Regions from separate parts of the Homo sapiens genome. Here all the other regions are linked to region 1. Evidence: fine-mapped expression QTL. A gene starts in region 1. Each other region holds a variant in brackets. All regions are shown on one strand. Distances are from middle to middle.

The links.
Region 2: its variant is fine-mapped to the expression of RETSAT in whole blood (TOPMed, PIP above 0.99).
Region 3: its variant is fine-mapped to the expression of RETSAT in whole blood (TOPMed, PIP above 0.99).
Region 4: its variant is fine-mapped to the expression of RETSAT in whole blood (INTERVAL, PIP 0.95).

The regions. Positions count from the first base shown.
Region 1 is chr2:85,351,508-85,356,835 of GRCh38, forward strand. It overlaps RETSAT (retinol saturase), which reads right to left and starts at 3,021. Exons shown (of 11, transcript NM_017750.4): 1 at 2,829-3,021; 2 at 173-355. The coding sequence starts at 3,000. ELMOD3 (ELMO domain containing 3) reads left to right here and starts at 3,262. Exons shown (of 14, transcript NM_001135022.2): 1 at 3,262-3,322; 2 at 3,569-3,663; 3 at 4,048-4,091. RefSeq lists enhancers at 3,023-3,524, 3,089-3,488, 3,525-4,024, 3,659-3,718.
Region 2 is chr2:85,292,012-85,297,223 of GRCh38, forward strand. All of the region lies in intron 4 of TCF7L1 (transcription factor 7 like 1), which reads left to right. Among named protein-coding and RNA genes, the nearest start is that of TGOLN2, 33 kb to the right of the region's middle. RefSeq lists an enhancer at 2,368-3,039. The variant G/A (reference allele first, on the strand shown) is at 2,089.
Region 3 is chr2:85,305,411-85,310,738 of GRCh38, forward strand. It overlaps TCF7L1 (transcription factor 7 like 1), which reads left to right. Exons shown (of 12, transcript NM_031283.3): 9 at 796-955; 10 at 1,042-1,149; 11 at 2,232-2,307; 12 at 3,619-4,977. The coding sequence ends at 4,052. Among named protein-coding and RNA genes, the nearest start is that of TGOLN2, 20 kb to the right of the region's middle. RefSeq lists enhancers at 803-1,303, 4,226-5,109. The variant T/C (reference allele first, on the strand shown) is at 2,787.
Region 4 is chr2:85,320,211-85,325,538 of GRCh38, forward strand. It overlaps TGOLN2 (trans-golgi network protein 2), which reads right to left. Exons shown (of 4, transcript NM_006464.4): 3 at 4,705-4,788; 4 at 1-2,531. The coding sequence ends at 2,526. Among named protein-coding and RNA genes, the nearest start is that of TGOLN2, 5.1 kb to the right of the region's middle. The variant A/G (reference allele first, on the strand shown) is at 2,541.

The sequences.
Region 1 (5,328 bases):
CAGCCTGGGTGATGAAGTGAGACTCTGTCTGAAACAAACAAAGAAAAAAAGTACCCAGAGAGAAGATGGCACTTCCAAAACAACAGAAATGCTCAGTATCACCCCACAAGGGCTGCTCCAAGCCTCTTCAACATACAGCCATGCTCCCAACCCTTTTCCACACAAGCCTTACCTGTGTCAAATTCAAGGCCATTCTTTCCAAAGGTATGACAGCAGCCCCCTGCCTTGGTATGTTGTTCCAGCACCAGGACTCGCTTGCCAGCTTTAGCTAGAATTGCAGCTGCAGCCAGGCCCCCAAAGCCACTGCCAATTACCACCACATCCAGCTTCTCCGGCACTTGGTTGGCTGAAAAAGCTACAGCAGAAGGGCCAAAGGGTGGGTTTCTCAGGCAGGGGCAGGGAAATAGCAAAGATAGGGAAACCAAAGAAGACTTCTCTAGCTTGTACAGTGCAAGAAACCTCTAGAGTGGTTTGGCACAGAACTCTTGACTAACATGTTTCAAACATTTTACCTGGGAATACTCAGAACCAGCCAGGCAGATTTGGGGTTTTGCTTATTTGTTTTTTGAGACAAGGTCTCACTATGGCCCAGGATGAAGTGCAGTGATGTGATCACAGCTCACTGCAGCCTTGAACTCCTGGCCTCAAGCAATCCTCCTGCCTCTGGTTCCCGAGTAGCTGGGACTACAGGTGCATGCCACCATGCCGGGCCATTTTATTTTTATTTTTATTTTTATGTGTTTAATTATTTTTTAAGACGGAGTCTCACTCTGTCACCCAGGCTGGAGTGCAGTGGCGCAATCTCCGCTTACTGCAAGCTCCGCCTCCTGGGTTCACATCATTCTCCTGCTTCAGCCTCCCGAGTAGCTGGGACTACAGGTGCCCACCACCACGCCCGGCTAATTTTTTTTTTTAATATTTTTTAGTAGAGATGGGGTTTCACCATGTTAGCCAGGATGGTCTCGATCTCCTGACCTCGTGATCCGCCTGCCTCGGCCTCCCAAAGTGCTGGGATTACATGCATGAGCCACCGCGCCCCGCCTATTTTATGTTTTATAGAGCCAAAGTCTTGCTATGTTGCCCAGGCTGATCTTGAACTCCTGGCCTCAAGTGATCCACCCACCTCGGCCTCCCAAATTGCTGGGATTACAGGCATGAGCCAACACACCAGCCCACAAGCCGGGTTTCTTTGGAAGATGCAGGGTCTGCAAGCAATAGTGGAATAGCTGGGTCTTATGGTGGCTCTTCCAGGTCCTGATGAAAAGGCTTGGGCAGGACAGAACTGCTCAGAGGCTGCAGCTCTGAGAAATCACAGCACCAGCCCCTCCCATAGGGAAGGTCTGGGGGCAGTGCTGAGGGAGGCAGCACCTTCTCAGAAGACAAAACTGGATAGCAAGTGGTGCTATATGGGTACTTCCGACACAAGATCTGTTCTTTAACAATCACTGGCAAAGAACTGAGATCTGGGATGTTTCAAGATACAAGAGAACTTGGCAAACTGCTTATTTTTTTAATGTTTTTAGAGAGATCAATAGTAAAAAAAAATTTCACATGTAAGTATATAAGATAAATACATGAAACAAGTGTCACAATGCAATACTTAGTGGAACTATGTATAATGCACTCTGATATTTTCTATTCTACTGCATTCTAAAATACTAGTTGTGGCCAGGCGTGATGGCTCACGCCTGTAATCCCAACACTTTGGGAGGCCGAGGTGGGCGGATCGCTTGAGGCCAGGAGTTCGAGAGCCTTGACAACATGGTGAAACCCTGTCTCTACTAAAAATACAAAAATTAGCTGGGCATGCCCACTACTCGGGAGGCTGAGGCAGGATAATCACTTGAACCCAGGAGGCGGAAGTTGCGGTGAGCGGAGATCGCGCCACTGCACTCTAGCATGGACAATAGAGCGAGACTCTGTTTCAATAAATAAATAAATAATGCCAGTTGCAACTCACTAAATTGATTTCATAGCCCACTAATAGATCACAATCCGGTTTGAAAAGCAGTTAAGCTAGTCATCTCATTTTTAGACCAGCCCAGGTAGGTGCTAATGGTTATGCAGCAAATTAGTGACAGAGTCCAAGCTAAAACTCAGTTCTCAGAAGTCCAGATGATTAGTCCTTCCACTTAGAACAGTACTGTCTCCGATTGTGTAGCAAGATATGACACGGAGAATTCTAAAATTTACAAGTGAGAGGGACTCCGTAGATCAAACAGGTGATCCATTATTTTTTAAAGCAGCAGAACTCTTTAAACTCTAGAAGCAACCACAAAATATGTTTTAAAGATGAGAGTGGAGAGCAGGCTCTGAGCCTGAGGCGCCTTGTTGAACCTCTGCCAATGTTTCAGAACTAGGGTTCAATCCTTACGATTTGGGACCATGCAAAGCCTGTTAAATCACCGGACGGGCAAAACGCAATTTCCTACGCATTTCTGTGCTGCTCCCCCACACCCCTGAGCTCGCATGGGAGGGTAGGTGAAAAAGTTAAGGTCCTGGAACCAAGTGGAGGAATGAGTCACGGGGATTATCAGTTCCACGAGCCACGGGGATTACAAGTGGCAGGGCGGGTGCCAACACCTTGCAAACCAAGGACAATGACCACACCCTTGGGACTACTATTCCCGGGGCCTACTAGGGCAAAGGCTATCGACAGTGTTGCACACTAAAGCGGGGCTCCTCCACGTGCAAGGAAGCCCTCCTAGTACTTTACATATGGGGAAACTAAGGCCCACGTCTGGTAGCGGCTGCCTTGGCAAAATGAGAACCCAAATCTGTGAGAAAGCCTCGAGTGCAGCCCCGGACCCCAGGGTCCCTCCTGCTACCTTGTTTGAGAACCTTCTTCCTGGCCTCCTTGTCAGTTACCAGGGGCGCTGGGGGCCGTTTGACATCTTCGGAGAAAGGATTCGGGGAGCTGCCAGAGAATAGTCCCAAGTAAACTTTGCAGAGGACGGCCAGCAGCAGCACAGCCAGGAGCAGCACCAGCGGAAGCCACATCACGCCGGCGTCGGGTCGGGTAAATGGGACAGCTCCGACTGCGCTCAGCCTCTAGGACTGTGGCTCCGCCCGGGCTAGTTCGCTCTCCAGTCAGGAGGCGGAGGCAGCTTTGAGCACTGATTAACCAGCCAGCCAGCGAAGAGCCAACTCTCAGGTGATGATTGACCCTCCCGGCTCTCCGTACTTCTTTTGGGTTTCCATTGCCTACTGGGAAATGTAGTTCTCGGGGCCAGGGGAGCCGGCACGGAAGCGGCTGTGCGCATGAGCAGATGAGGCCTAGCCGAGGCGGCGGGACCCCCAAGTTTGGAAAGCTCTTTTAACGGTGAGAACGCGTTAACACTTGCCAAGGGGAGTGGTTGGTGCCTGTGCGGAGCTAGCAGCCGGCCTGAGGAGGGAGGGAGAATGTGATCCGGTGGAAATTATCACTATGGGGCGAGACAAGGCCGAGAGTTGTAAGACTGAAAGAGAATCCCGACTGGGAGACAGGAGTCCTGAGTTCTGGTCCTGGCTCTGCCCTGGACTCGCTGCCTTGAGGTGTTAAATTGCTTTCCTCGTCTTACGCCTCCAGGCTATGCGAAAGTTCTGTCCAAAGGCTGCTCACAGCCCCTGTCTGACTGGTTGTCATGATGAATTGAGCTCTCTGTTACCTGCGCATCACAACCGGTGAGCGTCTGTCTCTGTGCCCCTCAAAGTGGCCCATAGTTTTGTCCTGGGGGCCCGCCTGGGACGGAGTCCTCTATGGCGGGTCCCTAATGACACCCCATCCGTGGGGAACCTGGGGGACGGGGAGCCGCCCATGGACAAGCATGGTGAAAGGATCAGCTAAGGGCCCATCTAATTTAAATTCCTATGCAGAGAATCTAACCTCCAGCAAGCAGTTGAAGAATCATACCCCCTCCTTGCCTAAAGAGGGTGCATAATGAATACTTGATTGGAGAAGGATCCATTTTTACAGGAAGGCCGTTTCCTTAGGTCCAACTATCAGGAATTTGCCTTTGAGTACTTCCTTGTTTAATGGAATTGTTGCTCTTTTCTTCTCTGCTACAGATAGTAACTGTCCCTACTGAAGGCCCCAGGAGTGCTCCAGCCAGGTGTGGAAAGCTGGTCACGATTCTATGCTACTTGGTTCATTTTCTACACAGCAACAGAAGAGCCCTCCTGAGATTGCTATTACCATACCCGCCTGTCACCTTGCCAAGGCTGGCCAATGTGTGTTTTGTCATAGGCTGTCATGGAGGCCATGATGGAGGAAAAGGAAAGGGGAGGCAGATGTTGAGGCCCCAGAGGCCACAGTGAGAGCAGTTTAGTTCCTGGGGTGCCAGGACTAAGGGGGCATTGCCCTGTCCCCCGGATTACAGTGAGCCACATGTCAAGCCCAAGAGCCAGGAGGTATTCTTCCTCTCAGTGTTAATAATCAAAGCATCCTGACACCAGCAGCCAGTTTTTATGGCATCCTGGAGGGCTGACCTCATAGAGAGGCTACCCTCCTTCCTTAGTCACCCAAAGTTGTGAACTATGATTGTCAGTTGTGTGTGGGCCATCTGCCCACTTAGGATGCAATTTTTGATGTGACAGACATTCCGGATGTCCAATTCCCCTGTGATGAGGTATGAGCCTTGTCCAGCCCTTTTCCTGAGGGAAGCAATGTCAGATGAAAGACTTAGAATTGCCCAAACTGGCTAGCCAGCTGCCACATGCACAGTATTGCTGATAACTGAGAAAGGTTAGAACATCGTGTTGCATTTTGAATTTCTACCATTGTTGGAACCAGGTCTAGTATTATAAGCCCCTGACCCAGCCTGTGTGTGAGGCCTAAACAAAGCCTGAGCACTTCAGCTAAGACCACCCACCAAGGTGACACCTTTAGCCTCACGCCTTTGATAAGCTGGCCCAGGTCCCAGTAACTCCATTGTCAGAAACAGACCCCATCCCTTCTAGTGGTGCTGCTGCCTTTTGGACACAGAATCCAGCTCACAGTCCCCTGTGTGGTCCCCTTTTGGCCATCCTGTGGCTTGGGTAGTAAGAGGTAAGCATTTGGCTGAGGCAAGTTGTTCATTCAGAATAAATTCACAGCTGCTTAAATTTTGTCAACAGGCCGAGCGTGTTGGCTCATGCCTGTAATCCCAGCACTTTGGAAGGCCGAGGCAGGCGGATCACGAGGTCAGGAGTTCAAGACCAGCCTAACCAACATAGTGAAACCCCATCTCTACTAAAAATACAAAAATTAGCAGGGTGTGGTGGCGCACGCCTGTAATTCCAGCTACTCGGGAGACTGGGACAGGAGAATCGCTTGAACCCGGGAGGCGGAGGTTGCAGTGAGCCGAGATC
Region 2 (5,212 bases), 60 kb before region 1:
TTTTTTTTTTTTTTTTTTTTTTTTTTTGAGACGGAGTCTCGCTCTGTCGCCCAGGCTGGAGTGCAGTGGCACGATCTCGGCTCACTGCAAGCTCCGCCTCCCGGGTTCACGCCATTCTCCCGCCTCAGCCTCCCAAGTAGCTGGGACTACAGGCGCCCGCCACTACGCCCGGCTAATTTTTTGTATTTTTAGTAGAGACGGGGTTTCACCGTTTTAGCCGGGATGGTCTCGATCTCCTGACCTCGTGATCCGCCCGCCTCGGCCTCCCAAAGTGCTGGGATTACAGGCGTGAGCCACCGCGCCCGGCCGGTCATATGTATTTTTAAGGGAGAATGGGAACATTTCAATGGTAGCTGCCTTTGGGAAGTGGGGAGGAGCATAAGACTGGTGGAGTGTTTAAGAGGATTTAACTTTCTGTGATGTTTTATTTAAGAAAAAAAGAACAAAATTTAAAAGCTATAAAAACAATCCCACATGGCAGGTTTTGGGTGTGGTATCATTCTTTATACTTTTCTGTATTTCTCAAAAAATATTTTTGTAGACTTTATGTCTTAAGTTAGCTATTTCTCTCTTTTTGTTTTTTAAGACAGGGTCTTGCTCTGTCACCCAGGCTGGAGTGCAGTGGCACAATCTTGGCTCACTTCAACCTCCACCTCCTGGGCTCAAGTGATCCTCCCACCTCAGCCTCCCAAGTAGCTGGAACCACAGGTGTGCACCATCATGCCCAGCTAATTTTTTGTATTTCTTATAGAGACGGGGTTTCGGCATGTTTGCCAGGCTGGTCTCAAACTCCTGGGCTCACCCAATCTGGCTGCCTTAGCCTCCCAAAGTGCTGGGAATACAGGCATGAGCCACCACACCCAGCCCAAGTCAACTATTTCTTTCATAATGCTGTGTAACAAACAATTCAGTGGCTTACATTAGTAAACATTTCTTTTTCCACTGATGGACCTGTGGGTCACTTGGAGTGGCTGTTTTAGCTTGTTAAGGGGGAGGTTCAGGTCTTCTCCACATGGCTCTTATCCCAGGACCAGTGGCTATCCAGGTCATGTCCTTCTCATGGCATGTGGCAGATACAAAAGAAGGGAAGCAGATTGAAAGCTTCCTTTCACTTCATTTCATGTCCACTAATATTCCATTGGTCAGAGCAAGTCATAAGGTGATATGGTGTGGATCTGTATCCCCACCCAAATCTTGTGTCTAACTGTAATCCCCAATGTTAGAGGTAGGGCCTGGTGGAAGGTGACTGAATCACGGGAGTGGTCCTTCATGAATGGTTTAGCACCATCTCCTGGTGCCATTCTTGTGATGGCGAGCAAGTTTTTATAAGATCTGGTCATTTAAAAGTGTGCAGGACCTCCCCCCACTCTTTCTGTCTTGTTCCTCCTCCACCAAGTAAGATGCGCCTGCTTCCCTTCACCTTTCTCCATGATTAAAAGTTTCCTGAGGCCTCCCCAGGAGCCGAGCAGGTGCCAGCATCATGCTTTCTGTACAGCCTGCTTAACTGTGAGCCAATTAAACCTCTTTTCTTTATAAATTACCCAGTCTCAGGTATTTCTTTATAGCAATGCAAGAACAGACTAATACGTAGGGGCAAGTCTAATACTGATGGGGCAAGGGAAGGAAAGAGAATTATAAATAAATAGTAAAAGCAAACACATGGCTACATCCTGACCTATTGATCTTGTTTAGCATTTGAGATTCAAGAATGTAGAACATACTCTAAACAGAAATAAATTATTGCAAGTGTTAACAGTCTCGTGTCCAAGTACTTCCTGTCAGAGTTTAGCATCTTCAGTAGGATCAAAATTAGAATTTCTCTTGGTTGTCGTCTTCTCAGTATTAGAAGGACCCTACCAATACTGTTTAGACACTGGCAGCATCTTCCTTATCATCCGGTTGGTGGGTCTCTTGAGCAGGCATCGGAGTCATCTGGGGAACTTGTTAAAACAAAGATTGCTGAACCCCACCCCTAGAGTTTCTGATGGAATTTAGGTGTGGCCTGAACACTGGGATTTTTTTTTTTTTTTTTTTTTTTTTTTTGAGATGGGGTCTCCCTCTGTCGCCCAGGCTGGAGTGCAGTGGCAC[G/A]ATCTTGGCTCACTGCAAGCTCCACTTCCCGGATTCACGCCATTCGCCTGCCTCAGCCTCCTGAGTAGCTGGGACTACAGGCACCCGCCACCACGCCCGGCTAATTTTTTGTGTTTTTAGTAAAGACGGGGTTTCACCATGTTAGCCAGGACAGTCTCGATCTCCTGACCTTGTGACGTGCCCGCCTCGGCCTCCCAAAGTGCTGGGATTACAGGCGTGAGCCACCACGCCTGGCCGAGCATTGGGAATTTTAAAAGCTCTCTGGATGATTTCAACTCTGGGTGAATCACACTTTGCAGAGTTTGATTCAGTGGGTCGCGGTAGGTCGAGCCTGAGAATTTGCATTCTAACAAGTTTCCAGGTGATGCTTATGCTGCTGGTCTGGGGACTGAGCTTTGAGAACCACTGGCATAGGGACATTGTCTGCACTAGTAATGGTAAACACCCAGTTTTAGCATTGCAAATTGGGTCACTCTCAGAAGCAAACTGGAGAGTTTCATGTCAAATTATTGATTGCTGAGCCAGTGCTGGATGCTCTCTGAAAGAACATCAATAGCTCTGCCCCAGCTTTGAGCTGAGAAACCTGACGCTGCTTAACATGCCAATTCTCAAAAATATTCATTGGAATTTCCCTTTTACAACTGTACATACAGCCAGGCACGGTGACTCACACCTGTAATCCCAGCACTTTGGGAATCTGAGGTGGGAGGATCACTTGAGCTCAGGAGTTCGGGACCAGCCTGGGCAACATAGTGCGACCTCACCTTTACTAAAAATAAAAAAAATTAGCCGGGCATGGTGGCACATACCTGCAGTCCCAGCTACTCGGGAGGCTGAGGTAGGAGGATTGCTTGAGCCCAGGAAGTTGAAGCTGCAGTGAGCCATGATCAGGCCACTGCACTCCAGCCTGGGTGACTGAGACCCTGTCTGAAAAAAAAAATTTTTTTAAATAAAATTCTACATAACTTCTCCATCTTCTTACCAGTATACCTGTGTAGATGCAGAAAACTCCAAAACCCATAGCATATCCTGTTGGTGCTCTGTACTACCCTCAATACTGATTGTAATTCTTAATACACAGTAATAACTTTTGTTTTGTTTTGCTTTGTTTTGTTTTTTGAGACGGAGTATTGCTCTTGTCACCCAGGCTGGAGTGCAATGACGCGATCTTGGCTCACCGCAACCTTTGCCTCCCAGGTTCAAGCGATTCTCCTGTCTCAGCCTCCCTAGTAGCTGGGATTACAGGCATGTGCCCGCATGCCCGGCTAATTTTGTATTTTTAGTAGAAACAGGGTTTCTCCATGTTGGTCAGGCTGGTCTCGAACTCCCGACCTCAGGTGATCTGCCCGCCTCGGCCTCCCAAAGTGCTGGGATTACAGGCATGAGCCACCGTGCCTGGCCACTTTTGGGTATTATTTTAACTCCCAGAAAAGTTTCAAGAATAATACAAGGAACTCCCATATAACCTTTATCCAGATTCACACATTTTTCCCCTGGGCTTTGTGCTTCTCTTTCTCTCTCTCTCTCTCTGTTTTTTCTTTTCTGAAAAGTTTGAGAGTAACTTGGAAACATTGTGACCCTTTACCCTTAAATATTTTAGCTATATTATCTAAGAACAAAGGCATTCTCTTAAATAATCACAGTACAGTCCTCAAAATGAAGAAAGTAACATTTACTTTTTTTTTTTTTTTTTTTTTTGAGACCGTCTCGTTCTGTCGCCCAGGCTGGAGTGCAGCGGCACGATCTCGGCTCACTGCAGCCTCCGCCTCCTGGGTTCAAGTGATTCTCCTGCCTCAGCCTCCTGAGTAGCTGGGATTACAGGTGCCCACCACCACGCCCAGCTAATTTTTGTATTTTTAGTTGACACAGGATTTCGCCATGTTGGCCAGGCTGGTCTCAAACTCCTGACCTCAAATGATCCACCTGCCTCGGCCTCCCAAAATGCTGGGACCATAGGCTTGAGCCATCATACCCAGCCAGTAACATTAACTTTTCATGTCATTATCTTACTCACAATATAGATTGAACTTTTGGCCGTGTCCCAATAATGTCCATGATAGCCCATGTGTTTCTCCTGGTCCCAGGTTCCACCTGGCATCATGGATTACATGTAGCCCTCATGTCTCTTTAGTTCCCTCGAATCCAGCAGAGGTCCTTAGCCTGTCTTTGTCTTTCTTGACCTTCACATTTTTTGAGAAGTACAGGCCAGCTGTTTTGTAGAATGTCCCTTAGTTTGGGTTTGTCTGATGTTTCGTCATGGTTAGATTCAGATTGTGCATTTTTGGCCAGAATGTCACTGCACTAAAGTTGCATCCTCGTTACCTCATTTCAGGAGGTAGCCCTACAGTCTGCCTTTGTCCCAGTATTAGTGATGTTAGCATCAACTGTTTGGATTAGGTGGTATCTGACAAACGTTTCCACCCTAGGGTAACAATTTTTCCCTTTGTAATTAATAAGTGTTTTGTAGGGAGAGGCTCCAAGGCTATGCCAATGCCCTATTTCTCATCAATTTTTCACCCACTAGTTTTAGCAGGCAGTGATGGTTTTCCACCTGCATCGTTCCTTCTGTTCATTTCTGCTGTTGAGCTTCAGCGTCTTTGAAATTCTTACTCATGTCTCCCAGCCCATTCGTCTTTGTATAGACTGGAGTTGACATTGTGGCAAGTCACATTTGTGCCATTTGTAACTGTGATGAGAAAGTCGCTGATAGATACAGAGAAAAAAAATTAAAAACCATTCTACAAATAGTGTTTCTAAAGAAGAGACCAAACTGAAGGAAAAGAGGCAATTAAGAAAGTTAAAATGGGCTCTAAAAACAAAAACTTGAATTTATGGATTGAAAGAGCTCCTTTGAATTCTATAAAACTCAATGAAAATTGACATTCACCTAGACATATCCTAAAAACAGTTCAAATTGCAAGGGTTTAGAAATGTTTTCCTTCAAGCACCCATGCAGAAGAGAAAAAAAGGCAAATGCCAAAGGAACAAAAATAAAGGTAACCTTAGGGCTGTCTTTTGCCACCCTTAATGCCAGCAAACAGTGGGAAAAGAAGAGTTTGGGTAAGGAAAGGCTTATCCCAAGAATGACAAATCCTGTCCTACTTGCAAAGACCTCAGAAACATA
Region 3 (5,328 bases), 46 kb before region 1:
AGCGGCAGCCTGGATTCAGGTGGGAGGGTGCAGGCTGTGGGGAGGGGTGGCCACACTCTGAGCAGCAAATGTCATGTACTCTTCTCTCTTGGTGTCACTCAGCAGGCATCACAGCCTCCCCAGCCAGGCCCTCCCTCTTCCTCGGGACTTACTCCCTCTGACCTTCTGGGTCCCTGTCCTTTCAGGGACATGGTGCATCTTCTCTCTTATTAAGGAAAGTTTTACTGTCAGGTCTCAGAGGCTGAAAGAGAACCTGAGAAAGCTTTTAACACCCCACCGTAAGATATATGAAAAGGTGAGGCCCAGAAAGGAGACAGTGTTTTCTTAAGGACTTGTGGTGGGCTGGTGGCCGAGCTGAGATGAGCACCAGGGTCCTTACCTTGCCCGTGTACCATAAAGATGGCAGGAAGCCAAAGTCAGTGCTCCCTGGAGATCCCAAGAGAACCCCCTCCCAACTTGGTTCTGCCCAGAGTGCCCCACACTGTGTCCTGTCACCGCCGCCAGCACCTGCCAGCTCCAGTGAGAGCTCATCTCAGCAACCCCACCATGCTCTGTTCCTCTGTCAGGAAATTGGAGAGTAGATTTTCAAAGAATCTGGCGTGGAGATCGTTCAAAGGTGGGAAACTACGGGAGGAAGGTACTCAGGTGTTGAGTGCAGCCATGGGGCCACTTGAATTAGCATCCAGGCAGCCCGCGCCCCTCCCCAGAGACAATCAGCGGTGTTTCAGTGACAGGTGGGGATTGATGAGTTGTGTGACACCTGACATGCTAACCTACAACCACGTGCCTTCCCAGGAAATCACCAGTCACCGTGAAAAAGGAGGAGGAAAAGAAGCCCCACGTGAAGAAGCCTCTGAATGCCTTCATGTTGTATATGAAGGAGATGAGGGCCAAGGTGGTGGCTGAGTGCACCCTGAAGGAAAGTGCAGCCATTAACCAGATCCTTGGAAGAAAGGTAAGACCTGCCCTCTCCCTCCAGGCCAGGGAGGCAGCGTCCCTGCATTGATGGCTCCGTGTGGTCTCTGACCCTCTCTCCCCCAGTGGCACAACCTGTCTCGAGAAGAACAGGCCAAGTACTACGAGCTGGCCCGGAAGGAGCGGCAGCTTCACTCGCAGCTCTACCCAACCTGGTCAGCCCGGGACAACTATGTAAGTGCACACTCTGGGCAGAGGACGCTCAGACCCCAGGAACAGCCTCTGCAAGAGGAGGAAGGGTGAAGGAAAGCAACTGCATTTATTTTTATTTATTTTATTTTCTTTTATTTTTTGAGACAGAGGCTCACCCTGTCACCCAGGCTGGAGTGCATGCAGTGGCGCGATCTCGGCTCACTGCAAGCTCCGCCTCCCCGGTTCACACCATTCTCCTGTCTCAGCCTCCCGAGTAGCTGGGACTACAGGCACCTGCCACCACACCCGGCTAATTTTTTGTATTTTTAGTAGAGACGGGGTTTCACTGTGTTAACCAGGATGGTCTCGAGCTCCTGACCTCGTGATCCGCCCACCTCGGCCTCCCAAAGCGCTGGGATTACAGGCGTGAGCCACCGCGCCCGGCCAGCGACTGCATTTATAGAGGACTCTTAAGATCAGGGAGAAGCCCATACTTCTCTAGAAATAAGGAAGGTGTTTTAATTCTCAGGAGGTCAACAAGTCCTGAGGACGGACTTCAGTTGATGCATTTCCCTTTGAACTGGACTCTGCCCTCGATTTCATAACACAGGGCACGGGGTTAGCTGTGGTAGGAAGAGTTGTCTCCAGCCACTCCTAACCCAGGGCTCAAAGACCAGTGTGTGAGCCTCAGGGGGCGTGTCTCTAAGCTCCCGGAAACCAAGCCAATTTTCGCATGCGTGTTCTTCTTTGCTTTTTTTCTGGTAAGAGGACCCACAGTTGCATCAAACTTTCAAAGGGACCTGGGACCCCTCAGAAAAGATCTAGAAGCACTGTTCTAGGGAGAGAAACAGAAAAACAGAGTCTGAAGGGCAGTGGAGGGAGGAGGCCTTCCAAGAAGGCCTGGACACCCGACCTGGAGGGGAAACGCGTTTGTAGGGGAGGAAGGGCTCCCTCTGCCTCCTCACGGGCTCCCACGGCTGTGATCTGAATTATCTCTCCACACTCTCCCTGAGGGATCGAGAGCAGTAAAGGGCAACGTCCTGTCTTCTCTCTGATCTGGGAGCCCCTGAGAAGCCAGCATTCTTCTCTCCCAGCTTACCTCTTCCTTTGGCTGTATTTTCCAGGGTAAGAAAAAGAAGAGGAAGAGAGAAAAGCAGCTGTCCCAGACACAGTCACAGCAGCAAGTCCAGGAGGCAGAGGGTGCGTCTCGGGGCACTGGCCTCTTCTCCTGCTTTTCCTTTTGTCACAGCCACACCTGCCCATGCTGTCTCTAGCTCCCTGATGGGTCAGGGCTTCTGCCTCGGTATTCGCGGGCGGGTATTATTACCCCTTTCTCGAGGTGGCCACTTAAGAGGCTCTGAGATGTGAAGGCATTTTCCCAGGCACTCTGCTTCAGTGGTGGTGGTAGGATTTGATCCCAGGACTTTGTCACTTCAAAGCCTAGACAATCTAATTCCATTGAAAAGTGAATCATCCTACCTGAGGGTTAATGGAATGAGGTTGAAATTGTCTTTGAAATACCCTTAGGAAGGCAGCACATGAGCCCCTGACATCCCACCTGTCAGTGGATCCAGGGGAGCCCGGGTTTCCTTGGATGTTTCTTTGGTTGAACACCAGAAAAAATTAGTTTGCTTGGGTTTAGGAGGCACTTTGTGTCAAAACCATGTATAAAATCTCTA[T/C]ATTACCAGAATCATGCCTAGCACAGAAAGATGCTCACACTGTGACGATTATTATTAATATTTAGGTCACGCCCCCCATCTCATGCTCACTCCAGGACAAGTGTATCGCTGCTTGCACGATGTAAAGTGCTTTCAATCTCTCTTCTTCATTCCTCCCTCCCTCCCTTTCTTCCTCCCTCCCTTTCACCTTCCCTCCCATTCTCCTTCCCTCCCTTTCCCCTTCCCTCCCTCCTTTTCTCCCTCCCTTTCTCTTTCCCTCCCTCTCTTTCCCTCCCTCTCCCCCTCCTTCCCTCCCTTCCCCCCCTCCCTTTCTTCTTCCCTCGCTTTCTCCTTCCGCCCTCCCTTTCTCCTTCCCTCCCTCCCTATTTCCTTGCCTCCCCTCCTCCCTTCCTTCCTTCCTTCCATTATACATAGGAGCGCACATGAGTGGAACCCGTACCTGCTACAGAACCCGCTGTCTGGCACGCTGTTCAGCAGGCATGCACTCTCTCTGACTGTATTAATACCATAAACCAAAGATTTCAAAGCAAACTGGAGATTCATCCCAAAAGTTACCAGCTTTAGGAAAGGAGGGTGGTCCTGTGAGACACTGAGCCGTCTTCTCTCCGATCTGATGCTGGGTGGATCTTCATCAGTTTGGGCGTTGCCTCTTCTCTGTGCTCTGGGTATTTGTGAATGCAGTTTCCTAGTCTTGAAAGCCTTGGAAGTAATGTCAGGTCCTCGCCAAAATCATCCCTGTGTCTCCAAAGCACATGTATCGCCAGGGCTGTTCCTCAGCCTCCTCCTCTCACAGAGCTATAGCTGCTCACTCTTTCTTGTATTTTCCCCCTAGGTGCCCTGGCCTCCAAGAGCAAGAAGCCATGTGTTCAGTACCTGCCCCCCGAGAAGCCCTGTGACAGCCCTGCCTCCTCCCACGGGAGCATGCTGGACTCCCCGGCCACTCCCTCTGCAGCTTTGGCCTCACCAGCTGCCCCTGCTGCCACCCATTCGGAGCAAGCCCAGCCCCTCTCCCTCACCACCAAACCAGAAACCCGGGCCCAGCTGGCTCTCCACTCTGCCGCCTTCCTGTCGGCTAAGGCTGCAGCCTCCTCCTCTGGGCAGATGGGCAGCCAGCCTCCCCTCCTGTCCCGGCCCCTCCCCCTTGGGTCCATGCCCACAGCTCTGCTGGCCTCTCCCCCGTCCTTCCCCGCCACGCTCCATGCCCACCAGGCCCTCCCGGTGCTACAGGCCCAGCCTCTTTCCCTGGTCACCAAGTCTGCCCACTAAGCTCCCCCCGACCCCTGCAGGCTGTCACATGACTCATTGAGTAGTAATGATTCAGAAGAAAAAGAAAAAGGAGACTTTATTGGTCAATATTTGACCACTCTGGACTGTTCTGTAAAGTGGCTGGTAACAACAGCACTTTACAGTTTGTAGATGTAACCAGTAGCTGATCTTAAGGCTTTTTTAAAAAACAAAACAAAACAACAAAAAAAAATCTTTATAAGAAAGAGAACTGAAAAGTAGCGTGCTATTCGTCCTGTAGGTGCTGTGGTGGATGGACCTGGGCAGAGGGCACTTCTCTCTCTTACCTCTCTTGCACTTTCTGTCTCCTGTCTCTTCTCGCCCCTGCCGCCTGCCCCAGCTTCCCCGACTCCATCTGCAGCTCTGCCATTGTGACATTTCCTGTTACCCAGCCCAAGTTTTCATCGTCTGCTCAATACCGTGGGTTCTTCTTCGTCCTCTGTCCTCTGCCCAGTGTGAGGCCATCACCATGTGAGAAGACATCTTGGCCTGATTTGCTGCCACCAGCGTCCCCTCCCTCAGTGGGCCCGAACTCGCCAGCCCCAGCTTTCAGTGGAGAAAGCGGTCCTCTGAAATGGTTTCCTCCCAACCCCCGCATTTAAAGGGACTCAAGGTGCCTGCCACTTCCTCAGCGAAGAAGTCTGTGTTCCTCCCCGTCCTTGCCAGTGGCGATCATCCCTTCACAATCCCAGAGTGGCAGGCGGGACCGGCCCCATGGTCTGGCTCCTGTCACCTGGGTCCGTGCCAGCACAATCTGCCAAAGTTCTAGAGACCCTGTTCCCTTCCCCATCACCTCACATGCTTCTTCTGTGTGTATTTCTTTTTGTTTTTATGGTTTTTGGAGCAATTTAAACTCCCAGTTGTTTATTTTCACAAAAGAAAATAAAATTGCAGTTGCAAGACCTTTTCTGAGTGTTTCTTTAGTGCTTTTGTTGAATCAAACCACCTGTTTGTTTCACTCCCAAACCCTGTGTTAGACTTTCGCAGATATGCAAAGGAAGATTGCCACTTGCCACAGGGGAATGTTAGGCATGCCTGACACCCTTAGAAAACCTGAACCCAGCTTCCTGTCTCAAATGTGCATGGGCCAGTCAGTGTCCATGACTGAGCTGCAAAGGGGGTAATCATTTTCACAGCTGATTTAAATGAATTTGCCGCCTGGAATGACATTCAGCTTATGCTTCTATCACCCATTTGACTCGTAATTGCCAAGATGTGAGGAAGCATCTTTTGGATACTTTCCATAGTATCTAGCACC
Region 4 (5,328 bases), 31 kb before region 1:
CAAAAGGTCTGTAACTGGATTCTCTAAGCCTTGAGAAGTTCACACCAAAGCTTCAGACCAGGGAAAATATTTTGGAAAGATCAGTCTTTCCAAGAGTGAGCTCCTTTCCAAGAAGCTGGACAGGAAACCCAATAAATGTGGATCTGAAAAAACAAAATCCAAGAGAGAAGCAAAATGGGCTGGGGGTGTGCAATAAGAGAAGCAAGGAAAATGGAAAGACTGTAGCTGAGGATCTTTTATTAAAAAAAAATGGATGGGACTTTGGTGATGAGAGAGAAAAAGGGCAAAAGTCTGCAGTTAGGAATTTAGGTGACCGAAGACTGTCCTAGACAGTTGGGAGGGACAGGCTGATGGACAGAAGAGAGAAATTCCTTTCAATGACAACCAAGCTGAACTATTCGATACCAGCAGAACTGGGTTCTTTAGGGATTAAGCCAAGACAAAGACTTGGGAATCACTCACTCCGAGGATGAAGAATGGGTTAATGGCTGAGGAGACAGTCAAAGGAATAGAGAGGCCTGGCTTTGAGGGCCTCTTCACCACCAGCACAAGATAAGGCAAAGGACCATTTGTCAGAGACACCAAGAAAGGGGAATTTCCATTTGGATGGTCAATAGTGTCCAGTTCTGCCAAGGACAAGACTAAGCTTTGAGAAAAAGCCATGGATTTGGTGATTGGATAACTGGTAACCTTTAGAAAAGTTTAGTTGACAGACAGAGACCGAAGTGAGTTAGTAAAAGTCATGAAGAGAATGAATGGCAACTTAAGGGAAGCAACATACTGGAGAAGTTGAGCAGCGGGATGAATAACAAATAGGACAGATGGGAACAGAAAAATCTGGGTGCATACGAAGGTGGATGGAAAGGAGCTGGTACAGATGGGCACAACCAGAAAACATGAGGAGGGGAAAGGAAGGGAAAAGGAAGGCAGGCAGGGAGAGAGACGTGAAATAGCCACAGTCTTAGGGGATGCTAGAGAAGCCTAGAAGATTCCTCAGGTTGGTGCAAAGTATTATAAGACTAACGCATCAGTACAGAGAATGACCCAAGAAGGGTAGGAGTTCATTCCTTACCTTCATAAAGTAGGCTATCCGCCAAGAATGAAAATGTCAACTCAAAGCTATGGGCTGTTTTAAGCAAGGTGGAAGATAATATAAGAAGCATGGTCCTTTCTTCAGACTTACTGCCTTGACAGCACAGAATTCATCTTATTTCCCTCATCTCCCAAGTTATTTGTATTTCCCTGAGATCAGCTCAGAAACAACTCTCTTTAGGCTCTCTACAATGCGGTAGAGCATGATTAGAAAAGATAAACCTTCAAACAATAGTGTTGTCCAAGACACTACCCTCACTTATCCCAGGGGAACCCACGGAATTTCTTCATTTGTATTAACTCCTGACATGGCATGGAAGAAGAATTTTTATCAAATACCCTTGGCATCTTATATCAGATTAAAGGACCATTAAATACACTGAGGTAAAATTGGCAGAGAGTATAGTTTCTATTAATAAATCTAAGTCTATTTTGTCTGTTTTAGGCAACAAAGGCAAAATGGACTTTGTGGGAAATGTATCTCATAAAAGCCCTTTGGAAAAACTGCAGACCAAAACCAAAACCCTCCTTCATGTTTTCTCGCATGAAACATAAACTTGCCCTATTTCAAAAAGTTCCTACTGAGTATGATTGTGTGAAAGATCACACTACTTCAAATCATATTTATTTTAAAAATCTGTGATGGGACAGTGGCCTCACTGCCAGGAAGCCCAAGTTCTGTTTTATGCTCGGTACAACTAAGTGGAAGTTGATTCACTTTGTCTCAAGCTACATAAAATAATCAGAAAATCAAGAAGATCTCATGCTAGACAGGTTAGACTTGCACCCAAAAAAGCATCTTTTTTTTTAACCTGCTGTTTTGGTTTGCTGCTGAAGTCTTTGAAGAGAATTATGTATTCAAAGTAGCTCTTTGCCCATTGGCATTTCCCCATCTTCTATGTCTTCTGTAGGGCACATCCCCCCCAAAGTAAGAGGCCTTAGTAGAAAAGCACTTCCACCTGCAGTTTTCCCCTAGGTCTGCAGAGAGAAACAGTGCAGAGTGCAATGCCACAGTCAAGGACCAACTTTCCTACAGAGCCCGGGCCCCAGGGAGGGTGGTCAGCAGCGCAGCCTGCCCAGGCTGGGATCTCCCTTTGGTCATAGCCGTGTTTCCATATACCCCTCCACTCACCCTCAGAGGAGGAACGGATGGAAGCCACCAGCATAAATAAAGGGAACACAGAAGAACAATGTCACCAAAGTGCAGGTGCAAAGCCCAAAGCAGCCCCCTACCTCTGCCAGCCCAGACCCGCCACTAAATTCTAGAGGAGGGTGTCTCTCAGGTCACAGTACTTTTTTCTTCATTTCTTTTGATTTAGAAACAAATCAGCAGGGAGGACAAGGTTCTCAAGGACAAAAAAATCAAAGCTGAAACGAGAGCAGCACAATCCATTGGTGACGTTCATCTTTTTCCAGAGGAATATACCATTCTGTTAGGACTTAGGGGA[A/G]AAAAGATCTTTTAGGAGGTGCAGGGAAAACATTCAGAATTAAGACATACTGACCCACCACCACAGAAACAGCAATTAATTAAAATAGCACACAAAATGATTTTTAAAGTTTGAAATGAAACCTAACACTAGAAAGATATACACTTGATGGAGAGAGAGGAATCCTGGCTTCTGCTTCATACTGTTCTGTACTGTTGTGAATTATTTACATGTGTTTTTTGTTGGTGGTGGTTTTCTTCTTTTTTGAGACGGAGTCTTGCTCTGTTGCCCAGGCTGGAGTGCAGTGGCATGATCTTGGCTCACTGCAACCTCTGCCTCCGAAGTTCAAGCGATTCTCCCACCTCGGCTTCCTCAGTAGTAGCTGGGATTACCATGCCCAGCTAATTTTTGTATTTTTAGTAGAGATGGTATTTCACCATGTTGGCCAGACTGATCTAGAACTCCTGACCTCAGGTGATCTGCCTCCCAAACTGTTGGGATTACAGGCGTGAACCACTATGCCCAGCCACATGTGTATTTTTTTAAAAATCATAAGCCATGTGTGGTGGCTCACGCCTGTAATCCCAGCACTCTGGGAGGCTGAGGTGGGTGGATCATTTGAGGTCAGCAGTTCAAGACCAGCCTGGCCAAAAGGGTGAAACCCCATCTCTACTAAAAATCTAAAAATTAGCTGGGCGTGGTGGTGGGCGCCTGTAATCCCACCTACTCGGGAGGCTGAAGAGGGAGAACTGCTTGAACCCGGGTGGTGGAGGTTGCAGTGAGCCAAGATTGTGCCACTGCACTCCAGCCTGGACGACACAGCAAGACTCCGTCTCAAAAACAAACAAACAAAAATCATAAAAGGGGGAAAACCCTTAAAGTCAATTATCTGAAAAGGCAGTAGTCCAGAGCTAAATTGTAAAGCTAGCCTACTGGACTAGTTAGCAAAGATATTCTGAGCTCAGTGGCTCGTTCTGTAGCTAATATTGAGTTGTGCAAGAGAATCGTGTTCCCTGCAGGAAGTCTGGGAACAATTCATAGTTGGGCCACCAATGGTTCTTTGCCAATGTCCTGGCTGTTGCTATGCTGAAAGCAGAAGGAAGGGTGCATGCTGGTAGCAACGCAGTGAGAGTACAGTCTTCCTGCTTAGACAGGTTGTCTTTAGAGAGACCCTTGCTTAGCTCTGCTGCCATGGGGTGGAAGGAGGGCTTATCTGTCTGACAGAGGAATGGATTGGCTGTACTCAGGAACTCCAGCCTACGGTGCTTAAGCCAGGCTGATGTGGGGAGTTGGAGGCCTATGTGCTTCCAGGCTCGTGTTTCCAGGGAGCACAGTCTAGCACTTTACCACACAAAGTGTGGATCCAGTGGCATTTGGTTTCACCTGGGAACTTCCTAAGAATGTAGACACAGGCCAGGCACGGTGGCTTATGCCTGTAATCTCAGCACTTTGGGAGGTCGAGGCGGGCGGATCACCTGAGGTTGGGAGTTCGAGACCAGCCTGACCAACATGGAGAAACCCATCTCTACTAAAAATACAAAATTAGCTGGACGTGGTGGTGGCGCCTGTAATCCTAGCTACTCGGGAGGCTGAGGCAGAAGAATCGCTTGAACCCAGGCAGCAGAGGTTGTAGTGAGCCGAGATTGCACCATTGTACTCCAGCCTGGGCAACAAGAGCAAAACTCCATCTCCAAAAAAAAAAAAAAGAATGTAGAAATATAGGCTCCACCCCACATCTAATGAATCAGATAATGCTTTTTATCAAAATTCCCCAAGGTGATTCAAATGCCTATTAAAGTTTATGGAGCGCTGGCAGAATGCAGAAAGCTCAGGACTGGGAGACTAGGGAGTTGCTATCAGGTCCTGAGTTTGCCACTAACTTGCAGTAGAAACTTAGCGGAAAAAAAAAAAAAAGAGTGTTTCTGCGTGGGCCTATTTCCTCATCTGTGAAGGGAGGTAGCTGCTGTAGAGTATTCCAAGGTCTCTGCTAGCTCTAACGTCACAGATATGTGTATCTAGATGTTTCTAGTTTGTTGTCTAAAAAGGGCGAATGCAACAGCAACAGCAACCGCATCCCCAGAATCAGCCACTGCTGCTTCATGGCAAATGCAAGCCCACTACTGGGTCCATCTGACGTTGCCTATCCCTCCTATCCCTCCCATGGACCTGGCTCCTCCTTCCTTACCTTCTGGTCCAAACGTTGGTAGTCACTGGCCTTTGGCCGCCGGGTGACTTTAGATCTTTTTCCTTCCAGGACAAAAGCAATGATCTGAGGAAAGGAAAAAGAAAATGATTAACAGGTGGCTCTGTAATGACATAGTTCAGTCTCTGAACTCAGAGGCAGTCACCTGGTAGCATATTTGTTAATGACCCTGACTGTAGAAAGAGCAGTACACTCACAGAGGTCTATTTAAACTATAACCATTTTAAGAAAGACAGAGCCTAATTACATCAGAATCCTTTGTATTGCTTAATAGGAAATAACAAATAGAAGGCTGTCTGAGCTCTAGCGTGTGGGAGGAAGTCTGTTTGATTTATTCAAAGGTACACAGTCAAAGATCTATCAACTCCTTCCTAGAGATATCTAGGATATAGGACATTCCTTTAAAAAAAGTCATAATCAGAATTTCCTATCTACAAATGTACTTTTTCACCCCACGATGCTACATCAACTACATTCTTTATCAATCTCATTTCATGACTAAGGTTACCCTGCATAATGGACACTTGGACATAGAATAAGAAATACACTTTTTTTTTTTCTTAGAGGCAAGGTCTCACTCTGTCACCCGGGCTGGAGTGCAATGGC